2 linked regions of the Homo sapiens genome follow. The protein of the gene in region 2 purifies or fractionates together with the protein of the main gene of each other region. This does not show direct contact. Each region holds a gene or a part of one and is shown on either strand. Other genes may lie near its edges. The genes, in order: MYO5A and TRIM3.

The links.
Region 1: the proteins of TRIM3 (region 2) and MYO5A purify together in Homo sapiens (affinity purification with western blotting; 2 studies listed by BioGRID, with this or other methods). This does not show direct contact.

The regions. Positions count from the first base shown.
Region 1 is NC_000015.10:52,524,550-52,535,234, reverse strand, and holds the start of MYO5A (unconventional myosin-Va), read left to right. Parts: upstream 1-6,354; 5' UTR 6,355-6,428; coding exon 6,429-6,455; intron 6,456-10,685. UniProt on the Homo sapiens protein: Processive actin-based motor that can move in large steps approximating the 36-nm pseudo-repeat of the actin filament. Can hydrolyze ATP in the presence of actin, which is essential for its function as a motor protein. Involved in melanosome transport.
Region 2 is NC_000011.10:6,462,188-6,472,457, forward strand, and holds part of TRIM3 (tripartite motif-containing protein 3), read right to left. Parts: intron 5,337-10,270; exon of another isoform or gene 5,319-5,336; intron 3,546-5,318; coding exon of another isoform or gene 3,509-3,545; coding exon 3,378-3,508; intron 1-3,377.

The sequences.
Region 1 (10,685 bases), on a different chromosome or scaffold from region 2:
AAGAGCTCCCCATGGCCATAGCATCAACAACCCGAGCAACAAGATTGAGTAGTACTGAATTATACCCCAGAGTATAACATAAATGCCCATACGTCTATACTGATATCAATAAATGATTGAATGAATGAATACGGGAGGAGATGAGACAAAGCTCCCATGCAGAAGAATTCTAAATAATTTAGGTACTCCATCCTCACGGAGGTGGAGCATATGCCCCAATCTTTAGGTGGGGGCTGCATATAGTGACTTCTTTCGAGACCACAGTATGAAAAAGAGGACTGTGGTACTAGTTTGCTAGAGCTGTGGCTTAAACAACAGAAATTTATTTTCTTACAATTCTGACTAGAAGCTCAAGATCAAGGGGTTGGCAGAGTTGGTTTCTTCCGGTTTCTTCTCTCCTTGGCTTACAGATGGTTGTGTTTTCTCTGTGTCTTTGCATGGTCTTCCCTCTGTACCTGTCTGTGTCTTAATCTTTTCTTCTTATAAGGACATCAGTCATATTGAATTAAATCCAATTGACCTCATTGTAACTTAATTTCTTCTTTAAAGACACTGTCTCCAAATATAGTCACATTCTGAGGTACTGGGAATTAAGATTTCAGCATATGAATTTTGGATGGGGACACAATTCAGCCCATAACAGCAGGAGAAGACACCTTCACAGTGAAGAAACCTGATAAACACAACCTGAGCCAGGCGATCAAGGTCAATATCAACAATGGAAAGTCATGTTGGTAGTGTGACCATGGTGATGTGATGAAAATGACATTTTACTCTGTGGTCTTAGTAGCTCACACCTGTAATCCCAGCACTTGAGGAGGCTGAGGTGAGAGGATCATTTGAGCTCACAGATTCAAGATCAGCTTGTGCAACATTGTAGGACTTTGTCTTGATAAAAATTTTTTTAAATTAGCCAGGCGTGGTGGCACATACCTGTGGTCCCAGCTACTTGGGAGGCTAAGGAAGGAGGATCACTTGAGCCTGGGAGATTGAGGCTGTAGTGAGCCTAGATTGCTCCACTGCACTGCAGCTTGGGTGACAGAGTGAGACCCTGTCTCAAAAAAAAAACAAAAAAAGGCAAAACAAATTTATAATCCCAGTCTAATCAAGACATAGCCCAATTGAGACACATTCTACAAAATATCTGACCTATACTCCTCAAAATTGTCATCAAAAACAAAGAAAGCCTGAGAAACTGTCAGCTAGGAAGATCTTTTGTTCTTTTTTAATTTTTTTTAAATTTAAATAAGGCTTCAGGTCATAAAGAAGATCCTAATGAGACATGACGACTAAATGTAATGTGGCATCCTGGACAGGATCCTGAAACAGAAAAAGGACATTAGGTAAAACTAAGGAAACCTGAGTCAAGTATGTATTTCAGTTAATTATAACAAGTCACTATTGGCTGATTAATTGTAACAAGTGTATCATAAAAATGTAAGACATTTATAATAGGGGAAACTGGTTGCAGGATATATGGGAATTCCATACTATCTTTGCAATTTTTCTGTAATCTAAAACTGTTCTAAAATAAAAAGTTTATTATTATTATTATTATTATTATTATTATTTTAAAAAGCTCCCCTGACTTGCTCTAGGTTGGAACTGGGACTAGAATCTAGGCCATTTGGATCTAAGTCATTTTCACTATTCAAGAGGTTCCATCACCACGACATGTAAGGCAAGTGTGTGTCTGTGGGTGTTGGAGGTACAGGATGAGAGGGGGTCCACAAGTACTATAACATGATGTCATTCAGGAAGATCAAGGCAATATGAAGTCTATGGAATTGGGCTGGAAGTATTTAAAGATCCAAGAAAAAAAATCAACTGTTTGAAGCAATCAGGTGCCATGGAGCTAAGCATAGAGATACACAAGCTGGTCAAATAGCAGGTGGTCAGGACACAGGCTAGAAGACTGGGGTACAAAAGACCAGAGATCAGACAGATACATTAGGACACACAAGATTAGAATCCAGAATTATAGTAATAGGTATCGGGAATAAAAATAATAGTAATAGGCCAGGTGCAGTGAGTCACACCTATAATTCCAGCAGTTTGGGAAGCCAAGGCAGGTGGATCACTTGAGTTCAGGAATTCAAGACCAGCCTAGCCAACACAGTGAAACTCTGCTTCTACTGTAAAATACAAAAATTAGCTGGGTGTGGTGGCACGTGCCTGTAATCCCAGCTACTCATGAGGCTGAGGCAGGAGAATCGCTTGAACCCGAGAGGGAGGTGTAGATTGTAGCAAGCTGAGATCATGCCACTGCACTCCAGCCTGGGCGACAGAGTGAGACTCTGTCTCAAAAAATAAAAAATAAAATAATTTACATTTACAATATACTTTGCACATAAAATTTTCACATATATTATTTATTTGATATTGAATTAAGTATTGTACCTTTTGAGTTAAGTACAGCACTTTTTTATCCTCCTTTCCTAGGGTTGCCTAAGCTCACAGGTGAGGGGCAGCTAGAATAACTAGCTGGAGTTGGGGAAGGGAAGAGGTGGGAAGCCAAGCAGTTCCTGATACTTGCCTCCCATCTTTCAAAAGTGTTTTCAGTTAGCCTTACTGTATTCTTGACTTTTTTCTGTTCCATAGCTTCATTTCCTCATGCTGTTCCCCCACATGTCCTTCAACCACAAACGACTTCCCATCCATATCACCACTTAGATCTCTCAATGAACTATTTGGAGTTCTTTCTCGCTGACTTAAATGTCACCTATGCCCAGTACCTAGTCCTCTGAAGCATTAAATATTAGGATATGCCAATCTCAACTGATGTACTATATATAACCAGTAACACAGCATTGGGCTTCTACTTCTAGAATTGGGCCAATCTTACAGAATTAGTTACTATTTTGTATGACCGTGCAGCAAGGACTGCCTCTTCTGCTACCCCTCCAGCCACCCCTTGCAGTGAGCTCCTCCAGGCCAGTGATCATGTTTCACTCATCTCTATATCTTTATTATCTTAAGTGCTGACATATAATAAGCCCTCAATTAAAAATAATTCAATTGGAATTTGATGACTACCCTAATTCAAATTGCTTCTTCCCCCAAATTCTTTCTTCTCTGTATGTTTTTTCTCATTGCATACTGTTCTGGTTTGAGTTGTGTCCCTCAAAAAATGTTGAAGTTCTGACCTCTCCCCACCCCACCATCCCTGTGAGTGTGACCTTATTTGGAAACACCATCTTTGCAGATGATCAACTTAGGATGAGGGCAGTGGGTTGGGCCCTAATTCAATTATGACTGTGTCCTTATAAGAAGGAACAATTTGGATATAGAGACATGCGCACACACAGGGAGCCTGCCACATGAAGATGAGGGCAGAGATTGGGGGATGTAGCAAAAGCTAAAAAATGTCAAATGCCAAAGATTGTCCACAAACTATCAGAAGGCAGGAGAGAGGCAAGGAACAGATTCTGCTTCACAGTCCTCAGAAGGAACCAACCCTCCCAATCCTTTGATCTCAGACTTCTAGACCCCAGAACTGTGAGATAATACCTCTCCGTTGGTTAAGCACAGTTTGTATTACTTTATCATGGCAGCCCTAGGAAACTAATACACCACTTACCAACTTTACCTTCTAACTCTATCATTGTCTTTCTCCCTGACTAGAATGGAAGCTCCATGGGGTCAGGGCTCTTCATCTGTTTTGCTCATGCCTGAATTCTCAACATGTAGAACAATGTCTGGCATATGATAGCTTCCAATATTTGTTGAAAATAAGGAATGGAATTTTTCATATAAACCTAGACATTGTTTTCATTTGAAAACACCCTACATAAAAATGCTCCCAATAATAAAGCAATAACGGAAAACTTTAACAACTTAAGAATACACTACCCTCTGGCTACTCTGAGAGGGGGATCCTAAACCCTTAGAAGCTGTAACTATTGCTGATTTCTACACCTCACTAGTGACAGGGTGCTTGGGACTATGAACGCATACATGGAAGTGAGCGGAGGCCACCCCTCGGGGCTTCCCTTTGCTGCTTCTGGCTTTTTACTCTGCTTTTTTTCTGAACAAAGTAAAGTAAGGTCAAGAATACAGAACCCGGCCAGGCGTGGTGGCTCATTCTTGTAATCTCAGAACTTTGGGAGGCTGAGGCGGGCGGATAGCCTGAGGTCAGGAGTTTGAGGCCAGCCTGGACAACATGGTGAAACCCCGTCTCTACTAAAAATACAAAAATTAGCTGAGCGTGGTGGTGGACACCTGTAATCCTAGCTACTCAGGAGGCTGAGGCATGAGAATTGCTTGAACCTGGGAGGCAGAGGTTGCAATGGGCCGAGATTGTGCCACTGGACTCCAGCCTAGGCAAGAGAACAAGACTCAGTATCAATCAATCAATAAATAAAAATACAAAACTCTTCTCCTCCTCATCTCCATTACCTTCCTCTTAGTATGGCCCCAAATATTTGAGTGGTTGAATGCATGCGTTCTGGACTTATAAGAGGATAATTCCCCTTTCTGTTTTCTCCTCATCACTTGAAAAAAATAGAAAACGAAGAAAGCATTCACACCTACAAGAACTCGTCCAGTTTTTTAGTTTTTTTTTTTTTCTCAGTATACTCAGCATTTCTCGACAGTCCTGAGAGGTAGGTATTATTTGAAGGTGAGAAAACAGGCAGAGTGGTTACCACCTTGCACACGACATGAAGAAACTGCAAGGCGTAGGAGCCAGGCCTCCTAAATCTCAGTCCAGTGCTCCTTCCGTTCCGCTGGTCGTCACTGCACACGTTTTCTCTTTTTATGTCTGGGTGAAGAAAGAGTGGGTCCCAGAAACATGAAAGCGATTTGGTTTTGCAATGGGAAGGAACAGAGACAAATCTGTAGGACTTTCGACTCAGTAGACATTCCCTCTAGCATTTCTGAGGGGATTGTGGGCGAAGAGGAGAGGTCTGAGTTCCACGGAGTAAGGACTGGCCCCGTTCCTTTCAGTGAATGGTCTTTCTCCAAATACACACGCACACAACACACACAACCGGGGGCCTCAGCCATGAGAGTTGTTCGTGATAGAAATGGTCTACCAGATTACCATGACAGGCACTGGGGACCAGTTGTAGTTCAAAGAAACGAGAGATGAGGGCACTACAAAGAGGCAGGGATTAAACAAACAAAAACAGCAACAACAACAACGACAACAATAAAGAATGAAGATTATTCAACCAGAAACGACAATGAGGGTGGGGAGAAGATAGAGGATGAAGACAGCGCAGGGTTGGGAGTAGAAAGACCACATTCTTGTGCTGGATGTTCAAGGATCACCGTGAGGAGAGTGAGGGCGGCTTTGCCCTTTTGATGTTGAGTTAAACTGTAATACAGATTTTCCATGTAAGTACTCCGTCATTTTCAGGTGGCAACCGGATAAACTTCAGGTGCCACCATGGAGCCGACAATCACCAGCAGCGAACAGGACGGGAAGAAGGCTGGGACAGAAGGGTAGTTGCATCTCCGCAAACGCACAGGTCTAGGAAAGAGGCACCTGGGCTGTCCCCGGGCTATCTCGTTTCAAAGTCACTTAAGTTTCTGTAGCTTAGAAGCGGCCCTTGCCCTCTGGTATCGGGAGACGACTTTGCTGCAGACATCGAGGTGCTCGGAATGACCTTGGTGATCAACCTTAACCTGAAATTCCCGGTCCTGCATTGCCCATCTCCCGGGTCACTGCTGCTGACAAGGCTCTTCTACAGTCCTGGGTTATTCTACAGTCTTTCAAGAGGGCTTCCCCTAAATCCTCTCCCTAGGAATGCTTGGAAGGACGGGAGGAGCAGCCTGGAGGCTCCCATCGTTTATTCGGACACAGTAACAGCCCGTGCCATGGCTGCGCTACCGCGGGAGCTAGGCTCCGCAGCAGAGGGCCCCGGGCTCGCTTCGGGGTGGGGGCGCCCGGGGTGTGCCGCGCCCTCGGGGCTCACGTCCCGGGCGGGTTTCCGGGCCTCGGCAGGGCGCGAGGCGGCGGCGGGGCCGGCTGGCAGGCTGATGATGATGATGCTCTGTGCTCGTAGCCGATGGGAGGCAGCGTGAGCCCGAGAGAGCCCAGAGCAGCCGCGGTGGCAGCGCTGGAGCGCAGCCTCCTCCCGCTCCCATAATGCACAGGGCGGCGGCGGTGGCGGCGGCGGCAGCGGAGGCAGCATCGCGGGCCGCCGAAGTGGCTGCGGCGGCGGCGGCGACCCCTAGGACCCCGGGCAGGTGGAGCGCTCGCGGCTGCTCGCGGCGAGCCCGGGAGTGATGGCGAGGCCCCTGCGGGCGGCCAGCGCCTGAGGCGCCCCGCCCCGCCCCGCCCCGCGCGGCCCTCCCCGCCCGGCCCTGCCCTGCCCTGCTCCCTGCCGGCGGCTGCGGGCGCTTCCTAGTCCGCTCGGGCGGCCGCCCAGGCGAGGTGCGGCCTCCGCACAGGCGGGGGGCGTAGGCGCGCGGGGCCCGCCATGGCTGCGTCGGAGCTCTACACAAAGGTAAGGCACCCCGCGGCCGGCGTCGAGGACTGGGGCTGTGCGGCCCTCGCCGCCAGCTGTCAGGCTGGGGAGGGGGCGGGAGCGCCGGGCCCAGGCGAGCCCCACCAGCGCCATCCCCTTCAGCGCCTCAGAACCCTCGGCCCTACCAGCCGGTCGCCCGCTGCGGCACCTTCCTCTTTCGGGCGAGATGGTGAAGGCGGCGGAAGGTGGCCCGCCTCGGGGGTCTCCCAGGCCCCTGCCGCGCTGCTCGAGCTGGGGGCAGAGCGGGCTTCGGAGTGGAAAGGGGGCCCATGTGGATTTAGCAGGGCGGGCGTGCCTCCCCTCCTGCTTGGCTTTGGAAAATTCCCGGCGGGTGGGAGATGCTTGCTCCAGTAGATCGGATGGGTTCTCTCGTGGGGACACGCGCTTAAAATAACGTCTTGTGTTGGTATGCAGTGCCGCTTCTACCGCCAGCTAGCCTTTCTGTGAGGTTATTTTGAATCCTGCAAACGGTGGCCGTATCACCTTTAGCTCCCCAGTTTAGCTGCGCTGGGGGTGGCGAGCCCCGGGGAAAGATGCTGCCGGATGAACGCGAGCTGATTCACCGGCTGGGAGGGTCGGTACTCATTTATCGCTGGGAGTTTGCAACCTGCGTGTAATCCCGCAGAGCCTTGTTAGGCTCCATGTCTTTACCATCCTCTGGGGCAAGCCTTTCCCTTCTGGGTTTGGTTTAAGGGAAGTGGCAGTCTTTTCTTAGACTGACATCAATATACTCAGGGTCTGGCGATCTCTGAATGACATATTATGGAGAACTGTCACTTGAGTGCTGCGCAGATTTGTGATGACCTTTGTGAATATATGTAATCATGGCATTTTATACTGTACACTCATGTGTAGGTAGATATTTTGCCAGATATTGATTACTTCTACATGCAGTTAATAGAGTTGCCTTTTCACATTAGCTTTTGCAACAGAACTTTCATTTAGGGTCCTGTAATCACTGGAATCATTGTTTCCAAATGTCACTGAAGTCCAGGGCCCAAGTTGCAGTGTGTTTTGTAGAGGAAAGAAGACTGGGCATCAAGAGACCTGGATTCAAGCCGGGACTTACTAACTGTGACCTTGGACAAGTCACTTAACATCTCTGGTTCGATTTCCTAATGAGTAAATGCAGTTAATTATACTTGCCTTGCATCCCTTACAAGCTGTTGTGAGAATCAAACTTAATAATCGTTGTGAAAGCTTTTTGTAACCTATGAATTTCTCTGCAAATATGAGATATATGATTAATTTCTTCAACCATGAAATGAGCTTGCATGAAACATTGTCTGAGACCTCTTTCTTTCTAGTTTTAGATTTAACGACTGTACAGTTGGAACTTCTCTCTCAACCTGGTAATTTCTTTAGGCATTGTAGATCTCTAACATATGAACGAATGCAATTGGAAACTGATTAAAAGTAACTTAAACACTTAATATGGTGCTTGCTATGTGCCAGGTACTGTTTTAAGCGTTTTAAAAATATGAACTCATAATCCTCATAAGGAACTTATGAGGTCGATATTAAGAAATATCAAAATCATTTTCACATGAAGAGATAATCAGTCTGTAAACATTCCTTGGTTACTTTGTGTAGCCCATCCCCTCCACTTCTACATCAAGTTTGTCCAACCCGCAGCCCATGGGCCGCATGTGGGCCCAGGACGGCTTTGAATGTGCCCCAACACAAATTCATAAACTTTCTTAAAACATGGGTTGTTGTGTTTTTTTTGCAATTTTTTTTTTAGCTCATCATTTATCATTAGTGTATTTTATGTGTGGCCAAAGAAAATTCTTCTTCCAGTGTGGCCCAGGGAAGCCAAAAGATTGGACACCCTCCGTTCTATATGGTGAGCAGTCATCTTTGAGTCACCTAATAGTAGGCTGCTTAACTAGAGACTGAGTGGATAATAAATTGTTGTTGGATTTCGAATGCTTTTTTCCCCCAGGATAATTTGGGAGAAAAAATTGAAAAGATGTTGTGATTTGTAAATGGTAAAGTTTTGGGCTTCTGTCACAGCTTTATCACAATCTATTTTAAAATTTACCTTTTAACAGCCTGAGGAACATAATGAGACCTGGTCTCTACAAAAAAATTAAAAAGTTAGGCTGGGCACGGTAGCTCACGCCTGTAATCCCAACACGTTGCCGAGGTGGGTGAATCACCTGAGGTCAGGAGTTCGAGACCATCTTGACCAACATGGCAAAACCCCGTCTCTACTAAAAATAGAAAATTAGCTGGGCGTGGTGGCGCATGCCTGTAATCCCAGCTACTCAGGAGGCTGAGGCAGGAGAATCACTTGAACCTGGAAGGCGGAGGTTGCAGTGAACCAAGATCGCGAGCCTGGGCAACAAGAGCGAAACTCTGTCTCAAAAAATAAATAAATAAATAAATAAAAATTAGCTGGGCGAGTTAGTCACGCCTGCGGTCCCAGCTACTCGAGAGCTGAGGCAGGATGATCAGCTGAGGCAGGAAGATTGCTTGAGCCTGGGAGGTTGAGGCTGCAGTGAGCCATGACTGTGCCACTGCACTCCATCCTGGGCAAAACAGCAAGACCGTGTGTTGAAAAAAAATTTTTTTTAACCTCTTTGTCATTATAAAGACAGACTGGCTTAGAGATCAAGACTGAAGTTGGGGCTTACACTGCCTTCTTCTAAATATACTTATGCCTAATTAATAGTCTGGTTACTTGGTTATTTGTTGGCAAATTCTTTTTGTGAATGGGCCTTAGCTTAATGGCAAGCAGAAATACTTATCAGGCATCCTGTGTGCCAGGTACTTTGCTTAATGTTTAGAGGATTTAACAATGAACAAGATACAGTCCTTTCCCTCAACACGCTCATAGTCTGCTTCTTACATTCTTGACCCACTTTGAATCTATAGGGGCATAAATAACCTGCTGTTACCTCAACAGCAGGCAGACAGCTGGTATGATATTTATTAGTAGAAGTTAGGGAATGGGTTGGGACATGGGGAAGGTTGGGCTGATTCCAGAGATAAAAACTACTATTGTAATTACTAGAGGAATAGGAAAATCATTAGAAGTATTATCAGTGGATAAGCACAAGGATCTTCCCCTTGCAGAGGATTATAGGAAGGAAGTTCTAGGATAGATTACAAGGAAAGATGTATTAGTGATATGCCATAATTATGGTATTTAACATTGTGGTTAAATCTGAAAAGTGCTCTTTAAAAAAATGTCATTCAGATCTTAAGGGCAGATTTTAATGTGTGATACAGATCAGTTCCTATTACAGTGAAGGACAAGAGACTGTTCAATTTCTTCTTTTTAGCCAGAATGGTAATGGTTTTGTCACAGCAATTTAACAAGGCTTCCATTTTGTAAGTTTTTCCAGCAGTATAAACATTTTAAGGACAATAGCTAGGTTCTTGGGATACTTGTCTGGAAACGAATATTTTGGTTAAAACATGTTTTGTTGATTTTTAAAAATAACAGCTTTATTGAGATATGTGTCTTATACCATATAATTCACCATTTAAAGTGTACTATTCAATGGTTTTTGGTTTATTCACAGAGTAGTATGTTGATGTGTTTGTGGTCAACCTGCCTTGCTCCCAAAAGAATTAAAGGAAACTATGATATCTCATTGCTTCTGATTTTGAAAATATTTGCTAGTCTTGACTTGCCAGTGGATATCTATATCATACATCATCCATAGGTGCTTTTGGTAACTAGAAGCAATTCTACATTTGTGGAGTAGGGTTTATCAATTAGACCTAGAAGGATTATCGGGAACATTATAATGAATGGCATGCTATTCCTCCTGTCATCATGTTCCCAGACACCATGGATAGCACCATGGTATCCATGCTATAGGATGGTCAAGATTACTTGAAGCTGGGTTTTTTTTTTTTTAATTTTTTATTTTTTTTGAGACAGGGTCTCACTGTGTCACCCAGGCTGGAGTGCAGTGAAATGAACATGGCTCACTGTAGCCTTTAACTCCTGGGCTCAAGCTGTCCTCCCACCTCAGCCTCGTGAGTAGCTGGGACCACAGCTATGCACCCAGCTAATTTTTAAATTTCTTCTAGAGATAGTCTCAGTATGTTGCCCAGGCTGGTCTTAAACTCCTGGACTCAAGTGATCCTCCTGCTTCCACCTCCCATAGTGTGGGATTACAGGCATGAGCCACCACACCCAGCCTATTTTATTTATTTATTTATTTATTTATTTATTTATTTATTTAGGTT
Region 2 (10,270 bases):
CTTCTCTCTGTTTATATCCTGTAAAACATTAATACAAGCTGCAGCTCTCGTTTTCTTGATTGCTTACTGTCAGTCACTGCCCACTAGAACATCCTCTGAGAGCAGGGACCAAGGGATACATGAATGAATACTAGTTGACAGTGAAGGCTCTGCAGTGAAAACTGGATTCAGATCTCAGCTATTTACTTACTGTGTAGCCTTGGAAATATTTCTTTTTTTTTATTTGTTTATTTAATTTAAGATAGAGCCTCTCTCTGTCACCCAGGCTAGAGTGCAGTGATGTGATCATGGCTCACTGCAGCCTCCACCTCCCAGGCTCAAATGATCCTCCCACCTCAGCCTCCCGATTAGCTAGAACTACAGGTGCATGCCACCACACCCAGCTAATTTTTAAATTCTTTTTTAGAGACTGCATCTCACTATGTTGTTTCCCAAGCTACTCTGGAACTCCTAGGCTCAAGTGATCCTCCCACCTTGGCCTCCCAAAGTGCTGGGATTACAGGCATGAGCAACTGCACCTGGCCAGAGATATTTCTTAATTATTTACTGACTTTGAACCTTAGTTTCCTCCTCTCTAATATGGGGATACCTGGGTGTGGTAGCCTGCACCTGTAATCCCAGCTACTCAGGAGGCTGAGGCAGGAGGATCACTTGAGCCCAGGAGTTCAAGTCCAGTTTGGGCAATATAGCAAGACACTCATCTCTAAAAAAAAAATAAAATTTAAAAAATTGAAACAAGCTGGGCACGGTGACTCACGCCTGGAATCCCAGAACTTTGGGAGGCTGAGGCGGGCAGATCACAAGGTCAGGAGTTCGAGACCAGCCTGGCCAACATGGTGAAACCCCATCTCTACTAAAAATGCAAAAATTAACCGGATGTGGTGGCGTGCGCCTGTAGTCCCAGCTACTTGGGAGGCTGAGGCAGGAGAATCACTTGAACCCAGGAGGCAGAGATTGCAGTGAGCCAAGATGGCGCCACTGCACTCCAGCCTGGGTGACAGAGAGAGACTCTGTCTCAAAAAAACAAAAACAAAAACAAAAAACAAACCAAAAAAAATTAAAATGAAAAGTTACATTAAAAAATTAAAATAAAAAAATAAAATGAAGTTAATAAAGTATCTGTTGCAGGGATTAAGGAAATCAGTATGTATAAATCACTTAGCCAGTCCCTGGCAAACAGTAAGCAATCAATACATGGTAGCTACTGTTATTACAATTTCTCAGCCAGATTTTCTCCAGGAGTGCTCAGTGATCTGGGCACAGGAGAAAGTGCAGAGACATCCAATTTCAGCTCTGATCCAACATTGAGCTTCTATTGCATGGGTTTTGCAAAGGATAAAGATGTGAAGGAACTGCAGGGGAGCCAGTCGGTCAGCCACAGGGTCCAGGATGGGCAGGAAAGACAGGGAGGCCAGGACGCAGCTGGTGACTGGGAAAAGAGGGAGCAGTCAAAGGGGCTAGATATCTATATTGTATCGAAAGTGGTGTAATGGGAGTGGGGTAACGGGAGCCAGGAGTGGAACGTTGGCGTTTATGACTACAGATAAGATTCTGGATTATAAGATTCAGGGCATGGTTGGGAGGGAGTGTTACTGAGGTGGAATGGGGGACAACCCTGAAGAAACAGTTAAGAACCAACAGGCACAAGAGGGTGGTTGTCCCCAGGCTGACAGAAGAACTTGAATGGACAGGAAAACTGAGGCCATTTCCAGTTGATAAAGGAGAGTGGGCAGTGGAGCTGGAATCTCAAAGAGCAGGGCTGGCAGGGAAGCAGTATCTCTGGTGCAGAGCCAGGTTTCCGTTGGGGCAGAAGGCAGAGGAAAAGTGCGGATAGAGGCAGTGGTGGTGAGAAGACCTAGGGACCAGGCCACCCAAGACAGAACAATGAGAGATAAGGGCCCAAGAGAATATTGTCAAAATACAGATGTGATCACATATAAAACCCTGCAAAGGCTTCATGTGGCTCTCAGGGTAAAGGTGAAATTCCCTAACAGGTCTACAAAGCCCTAGGTGGTCTGGCCTCCACCTACCTCTCCAGCTTCATCCCATAATACTCTCAGTCACACTCACTCTGCTCTAGCCCTACCAGGCTTCCTCCAGGCCTCTTACCTGACATATTTTCTCATGTCACATGAGCTTTTCCAATGGTCTTTCTTCTGTGCAGAATGCTCTTCCAACCCCCTTTACCTAGTTAACTCCTATTCATCCTCTGAATTGCTCCTCAGGGAAACCTTCCCTGATTCTCCAAACTATAACAGATTCCATATGCCAATCTCTCATAGCTCAGCACTTTATTTGCAGCACTTACTAAAAGTTATATTTATCTATAATCTGGCTATATGATTATTTGATGACTATCTTTCTCTTTCACTATACTGTTAGCTCTTTAAGAGTAAGCATTGTAAGTGATGGATACCTTAAATACCCTACTTGATTGTTACCCATTCTATGCTTGTGTAACAATGTATCACATGTTCCCCATAAATATGTAAACTATTGTGTATCAGTTTTTAAAAAGAGTAAGCACGGTAGCTCACGCCTGTAATCCCAGCACTTTGGGAGGCCGAGGTAGGCGGATTGCCTGAGTTCAGGAGTTCAAGAACAGCCTGAGCAACACGGTGAAACCCCATCTGTAATAAAATACAAAAAGTTAGCTGGGCGTGGCGGCGTGCGCCTGTAGTCCCAGCTACTCCGGAGGCTGAGGCAGGAGAATTGGTTGAACCTGGGAGGCAGAGGTTGCAGTGAGCCGAGATCGTGCCACTACACTCCACCTTGGGCAACAGAGCGAGACTCCATCTCAAAAAAAAAAAAAAAAAAAAAAAAAGAGTAAGGATCTTATCTGTTTTTGCTCATCACTGCATACCCAATGCCTAGAACAGGGTCTGGCACATAGTAGTTGCTCAATAAATGAATATTTGTTAAATGAATAAGTGATCCATAGAAGCCTAGAGGCTGGGACAGGTTGCCTTTCACTCAGTACCTGAGGACAACAAGGACAAGCAGGGAAGGACAGACCTAACTTCAAATATCCTCCAACTAGTCATAAATTGCTGATGCCAAAGCTGGTTGAGTCTGAGCACTGTTTGATTTCTTAGGTGGTGTCAAAAGCTGCCTTGAGGTTTGGGAAAGGACAGAGAAGGCCCTATTCTTGACAGGAACCATGGCCCAGTGTTATGGTTCTTATGGTTCTCTCACAGGTTCTTGCCCTCAAAACCTCATTTCCTGCAGGTTGGGGTTCACCTGCTCTCCTCCCAGGTAAGCATGTTGCCTCACCTACTACAGGTTTACACATGCTCCCTCACCCTCCCCACAGGGGAGGAGGATCCTCATCCTCCCCACAGGGTCCTCATCCCTCCCCAGTACACACATCCCCTCACCTCTCACAGAAGGTGTGCAGGCAAGGAAGAACCTTGGGGCACTGGTACCGATCCAGGCAGATGCTGCATACCAGGAACTGCTTGTCCATTGGCTGGACCTCTGGGCCAGGGCTGTCCTCCCTCTTTGCCATGGCGCCCACAGATGGCTCCCGCCACTCACACCAGCCTCTGTATGGAGAGATGGTCAGCACCAGGGAGTCCAGAACTTCTTCTCCCCACCCAATCCCCGCCACTCAAATCCCCTGCAGAGAACTTGCCCCCACCTCTTCCCTGCTAGGGGCAAGACAGGGCAGTGACTGGAAGGATCAGGGTGATGTGACCTCTGAGCCTGGTGTTCTGTTTAAGAGCACAGACGTAGGATTAGATTGGGTTTCAAACCTGGCTCAGTCTCTCACCAGCTATGTGAGCTTGGACAATCCATGTAACTTCTCTGAGCCTCAGTCTCTTAATTTGTAATTACAGGAATAATAATTTGAGAGTGTGACATAGTGCCTGTTGAGTGCATGGTACAGAGATGTCCATTTTCACTGACATACCTACCCTTCATCTCCTCTACCTCCCCCAAATCCTCCTCCAAGAGACCTGAATGGAGTGTCTCTCCTCTAACTACCTGCAGCTCTTCCATTTATACCCTGACCCACCTCTTAGCACAACTGCCTGAAACTGCACTCTTTTTCACACCCAGTTAGTATCAAGGTCGGGATTGCTTCCTGAATATCTTAAACCCTTCTCTCCAATCCCACAGTTACTACCCCTAATTCAGGCAACCATCTGTTCTCTCCTGGAATACAGCAATAGCCTCTTAACTGGTGTTCTTGTCTCCTCACTGACACCTTTTCATTTATCTTCCTTGAAGCCAGAATGAATTTTCTAAAACACAGATTTGATCTTGTCAGTACTCTGTTTAAATTCCTTCAAATGTTATCCATTGTCCAAAGTCCTTATATTGACCAGTGAGGCTTAACTTTGCCCCATACCTTTTCTACAACCTCATGTCTCATAAGTCTATGATCAATCATTCCTGCTGGGTTTTTTTTTTTTTTTTCCAGTTCCTGGAAAATTCCTTGTTCTCTTTTGCTTCTGGGAGATCAGGCATTCGTTCTCTCTGTCCTGGGATCCTTTTCCTGGCCCCTTTTCCTGGCTGATGTGACACCTACTCATCTTTCAGGTCCCCATATAAATGTCACCTCCTTTAGAAGACCTTCCATGACTACCCAGAGTCTGGCTTGGGTGCTCTACCTCTGTGTCCCTCAGCACCCTGTATTTACTCCATCCTAACTCTTATAAGCTATGCTGTAATGTTCTTGTTACTTCTCTGCTTTCTCCACTCCATGCAGTGTTATTGAGGATAGGCATTTTATTTATTTATTTATATTTTATTTTATGTTTTCATTCTTAGCACTTAGCACAGAGCCTGACATAAAGATTGATCTATATTTACTGAATTGATTTCAGGAATTCAATAAATATTTACTGCCTACTTTGTACAGGTGTTAGGAATGGAATGATAAAACAGACAGGGTCACTGTCCCTGTGGTGGGGAGGTGGTGGCAGATATTTTAAAAGTAAATAATAGTGGCAGGGAAGTGATATAAAGAAAAAAGGGATGCTGTGAGAAAGAACACTTTTGATTGAGTCATCAGGGAAGGCTCTCCAAGGAGGTAACTTTTAAGCAGAATTCTGGGTGGATGGGAGAAAAATGGTATGGGTGAGGGTGAGAAACAACAGGGAGTCAGGAAGGGAAATCATTCTAGGCTGAAGAAACAGCATGATAAAGGTTCTTAGGCAGAAGGCTCATGGAGAACCTGAAAGGACTGTGTGGTTGGAGCCAAGTCAATAAAAGGAAGAGGTGAGTTTGGGAAGATAGGTAGAGATGAGATCATGAAGGACCTTATAACCGCCATTAAGAATGTGATTTTGGCTGGGTGCAGTGGCTCATACCTGTAATACTAGCACTTTCAGAGGCCAAAGCAGGAAGATCGTTTGAGCCCAGGAATTGGAGATCAGCCTGGGCAACATAATGAGACCAATATCTACAAAAAAATTAAAAATCATCTAGGCATGGTGGCACACACCTGTAGTCCAGGCTACTTGGGAGGCTGAGGTGGGAGGATTGCTTGAGCCCAGGAGGTCGAGGCTGCAGTGAGCCATAATCGTGCCACTGCACTCTAGCCTGGCATGAGACAAAGTTGAGATTCTGTCTCAAAAAAAAAAAGTGATTTTATCCTAAGTTGGAGGGGGGGATGATGTGGTTTATAAATAAGTGAAAATAAATTAGAAAGCTACTCTGGCAAGCTGTGAGAATTGAAGACAAAGAGAAGCCAGAGTGGAATCAGAGAAAACAGTTAGGAAGCTACCAAAGTTCTTTGGGTAAGATAATGTAGGGTATCATCTGAGCTACAAGCAAAAAGCTGGACTGATTTGAGAAATATTCATTGGCCGAGCAAGGTGGCTCACATCTGTAATCCCAGCACTTCGAGAGGCTGAGGAAGGAGGTTCACTTGAGCTCAGGAGTTCGAGATCAGTCTGGGCAACATAATGAGACCCCATCTCTATAAAAATAAAATAAATAATAAAAGAGAAATCCAAAGGACATCAAGATGAACTGGGTGTGAGAGGGATGTCAATTATGACTTAGCTTTCTCATTTTAGCAAGTGATGGGCCATGAATAGAGACAGTGAAAGCTGAGGTGGAGCTGATTTGGGGCATTCTGTTCTATGTATGCTAAGTACAATGTGTCTCTCTGATGTCCAGGTAGAGCTGTCAAGTAAGAAACAGAATACAGGAGCTCAAGAGAAAAGTCTGGACTGGTTATTGATTTGGGATCACTAGCATATAAATGGCACTTTCAGCAATGAGAAGACATGAGCCCACCTAGGGACAGAGGGCAGACAGTGATAAGAAAAGGGCCTGGCACAAGAGAGGGGAGCCAGCAAAGGTGACTCTGAGAAAGAGAACCCAGAGAAATGGTAGGAAAACCAAAAGAATGTGAAACCAAAGAAATCAACAGAACAGTGCAAGAAAAAGAAGGGGTGAAGTAAGAAACGGACTGAAGAGTGCCCACTAGATTTGGCTGTGGTGGGGTGGCAGGGGCAGAAGCCACGTCAGAGTGACTGAAGAGTAAATGGGAGATGAAGTTAACACAGCAGATGTAGACAATACATGGCAGGGATTTGGTCATGAAGGGTGGCAGAACAACAGCTGGATTACTCCAAAATAGGCAATGAATAGGACCAGGTCACCATTGTCTGTGCTGTTGGATGCATTATGAGCCTTTTTCTAAAGACTGTGAATGAATGAATGAATGAATGAATGAATGAATGCAGGAGCGAGTCTAGATTTGGGGAGGGATAGAAGGGCTGAGTTGCTGTGCCTTATGTTTGTGTAAGGGTGGGCCTGGGTAGAGTGTGAAGGGCATGCCTGAAAGTATCCTCTGCTGATGTAGACACTGGCATCCTGATGTTCTCTCTACAGTTGTAATGGGTTCTGGAGTCTGAAGACTTAATACCAGGAAAACATAGCAGGAGGGAGGACAGATTGAAGGTTGGCGGAAGGACCAGGAGGCGGGAGGCAAGCTGAAGCCTCTGTCTGGTGAAGGGAAAGGCTGGGAGGAAGAGTGGGAGTGGTCTGCTGGGTCCTGCTGGGGTAGCTGGATGCCAGGCTCCACCTCTCTCCAAGCCTAGGGGCTCTCCCAGACTGTCACACAGGGGCGGGGATTGGGCTATGTCCAAGGACCAATAGCTCCTCCCCCACTCCTCCCCTTCCTGCTTCAGTTCCCCTCCCAGACTTACTGGGCATGCAGCCGCTGAGGCCATACCCCTGCCTGAATCTGAGATTCTCTTCCTCCCGTGGGGTCCTAGCTCTTCCATCCCACTGTGCTCTAGAGATTTGCCCCCAAGATCCTATAGGTGGTGGTTCAAGTGAACTGTTTATCACAGCAGACACTTATAAGGCCTTGGTCTCAGAGCCAGACTTTACTCTCCTTTCTCATACTGCCTTCTGCTATCCCTGTATTGGTTATTCCCACCATACTTTATGGCTTAGTTCTCAAGGCACCTCACTCCCTCATTCAGCATTCACTTGACACTGCTGCTAGGCCTGGGGACACAAAGACAAATAGTCACAGCTCAGCCTTCATGGATTCCACAATCTAATAAATAGATTACTGCAATGTAAAGTGGTGAAGACCATGATGAGGAAGCACCAATTGCTCCAGGAGTACAAAGGTTACCTAACCTAGATCTGGAGCAGGGGTGGGTCCAGAGGTTGGAGGCCAACCTTTCTCCTAAAGAAAGTAACTTTAGTAACTCCTAAAGAAAGTAACGTTCAAGCTGAGGATGAGTTACAGAGAGTATGGTGCCTTTTGCATCAGGAGGCTGAATCAGACACTGTGATGGGAGGGCTAAGAAACAAGATGGAGAGGTAGGCAAAAGATATATCATGCAATGCCTTGTTGGTCTTATTAAGGAGTTTAGACTTTACGCTTACCTGCTAGGGGATGAAGGATTTATCCAAAAAGCAAAGGAAAACTTTGGTAGTGGTGAGGGCTATTAAGTATAGAGTGACAAAAGTACATTTTTGGCTGCTATGTGGAAAATAGTTTAAAGGGCAAGGACGGAAAATTAAGAAACTGCCTTGATTAGGAGAATAGCAAAGACAGGCCAAGATAAATCAATTTTGCAGGGGGATATCAACTGAACTTGGTGGCTGGGTATTTACATGTGAAGAGTTAGGGGAGAAGAAGGAATTAACAGATGATTCTTTGGAAACTCTCAAAGAAGAGCAGTTTGGATGAGAGGGTGATAAGTTTGGTGTTTATCTTTTAAGGTTTTTTCAGTTTTGTTTTTGTTTTTTAAGAGACAGGGTCTTACTCTGTTGTCCAGGCTGGAATGTGGTGTTATGATCATAGCTCACTGTAGCCTCAAACTCCTGGGCTCAACTAATCCTCCTGCCTTGGCCTGCCAAAGCGTGGGGGTTGCAGGCATGAGCCACAGCACCCAGCTAGAGTTCACTGTTTAATGTGATGAATCTGAGGTGCCTATGGGATGTAATTCAAGTGGAGAGGTCCAGTTGGCAGTTGGAAAGATACGCTGAAGCCTAAGAGAGAGGTCTGGCCTGGAGACATGAATGTGGATGTTGGTGCAGAGATGGTTCCTGAAGCCATGGGCGTGGATGACATTACCCTGAGAGGGTAAAGAGAGAAAGGAGGGTCTATCACCAAGTCCCAAGGAACCTCAATATTTAAGAGATAGGCCCAGGAAGCAGAGTCTGCAAAGAAGATTGAGAAGGCACAACCAGAGAAGCAAGAGAATCAGGAAACAGATGTCATGAATGCCAAGGGAGAAGAGAACTTCATGAACAAGGGAGTGAAATGCTGCAGAGGTCCCATTATTTAAGCCCCAAAGAGGCTTTCATTAACCTCAGAGCATGTGGTTTTCAGGGGATGGAGGACAGGAAGCCAGATGCAGGGAGTCAAGCAAGAAGCTGATTGTGAACAAATGAAGACAGCCAGTGCTGACTCCACTAGATCCTGGACATCTGCAAAGGATGTGTTTCAAGGCTTTTCAGTTTCTCCAAATTCTCAAATAGCATTAATTTTCCCCAGGACTTCCTCCTACAATCTCACAGGATTCCCAGTACACATGAGTTACACAGTTGTGAATGGAGGTAACCAAGGCATTGTTGAAAATGGATGCGAGAGGTCAGCTAGGCTCATTTGCTTGCTAAAATAACTCACGTCTACTCACTAGCTTCCAGGTTTATCTGATCATTTGAGACCTCAAAAAAATGACAAATGACTGCAGGTTACAGTCTTTGGGCTTTCTCTGAAACAAATGAAGCCTTGGATGAGGCAAAGTCCTTAAAGCCAATGAATCCTTTAAATAAGATTAGCAGGGAAGGAAAGCAATGAAATTCATGGCCATCTCCCCCAACATTGCCAGACTGAGTAAAGTGAATGAACCATTCAATCAAACTTCTCTGGGCACACTGTGGGCCAGGTCCTTCAGCTGTGAAATAGAGACACAAAGCTGAATCAGACACACTCCCTGTCTTTCACAAGTTTTTAGACTAATGTGAGAAACAGAAATGGAAACACGTAACTACAATGTGATAAGTACCATGATATTGACATGTTCAAATTGCTACAGCAGCAAACTGGAGGAAGTACCTAACTCTGAGGATGGTACAGAATAAAGAAGGCTTCCAGAGGAAGGGGTATTTGAGCTGGGTCTTGAGAGACAAATAGGACATTGATACGTACATTGGGAAAACAGTGAGTAAAGAAACAGAAACATGAGAAACTAAGAAATATGGAACAGATGGACAAGATTGCAAATCTCCAAAAGGCAGAGGTTATACATGATGCTTTTACATCCTAAAAGCATAAAAATAAATATGCTAAAAATAAATAAATCTAAATAAATAAATAAATAAAAGGCACCACCACTCACCCACCCACACAAGCGAGAACCCTGGTAGTCTTCTCAATTACACCTTTTCTTTCACCTTTCAGATACAAGCTATGACTACATCCTCAATTCTGCCTCTGAAATTTGGCTAGGTTTAAAAAGTTAGGAGATCTAGGATCTAGTCCTAATGCTGTAACTAACTCCACTAACACAAGGTGAAACTCTAGGTAAGTTCCAACCCCATTCCCTTATTTGTAAATTGGGAGAAGAGGGATGTTTTCTCAAAATCTGAGATTCCCAAGGTTCCCTCTCAAGCCAAGGGCTTCCACAGATTGTACCATGAGCCCATGATTAAATCCCATCTTGTACTACCTCGATGATTTGACTTCTAGTTTCCACTGTTAGGCTAAATGTGTTAGAGGATGGTCTTAGTTGCCTCCCCTCCACACTCCCCCTGCCCCCTCGCCCCCGTAAATAAATGT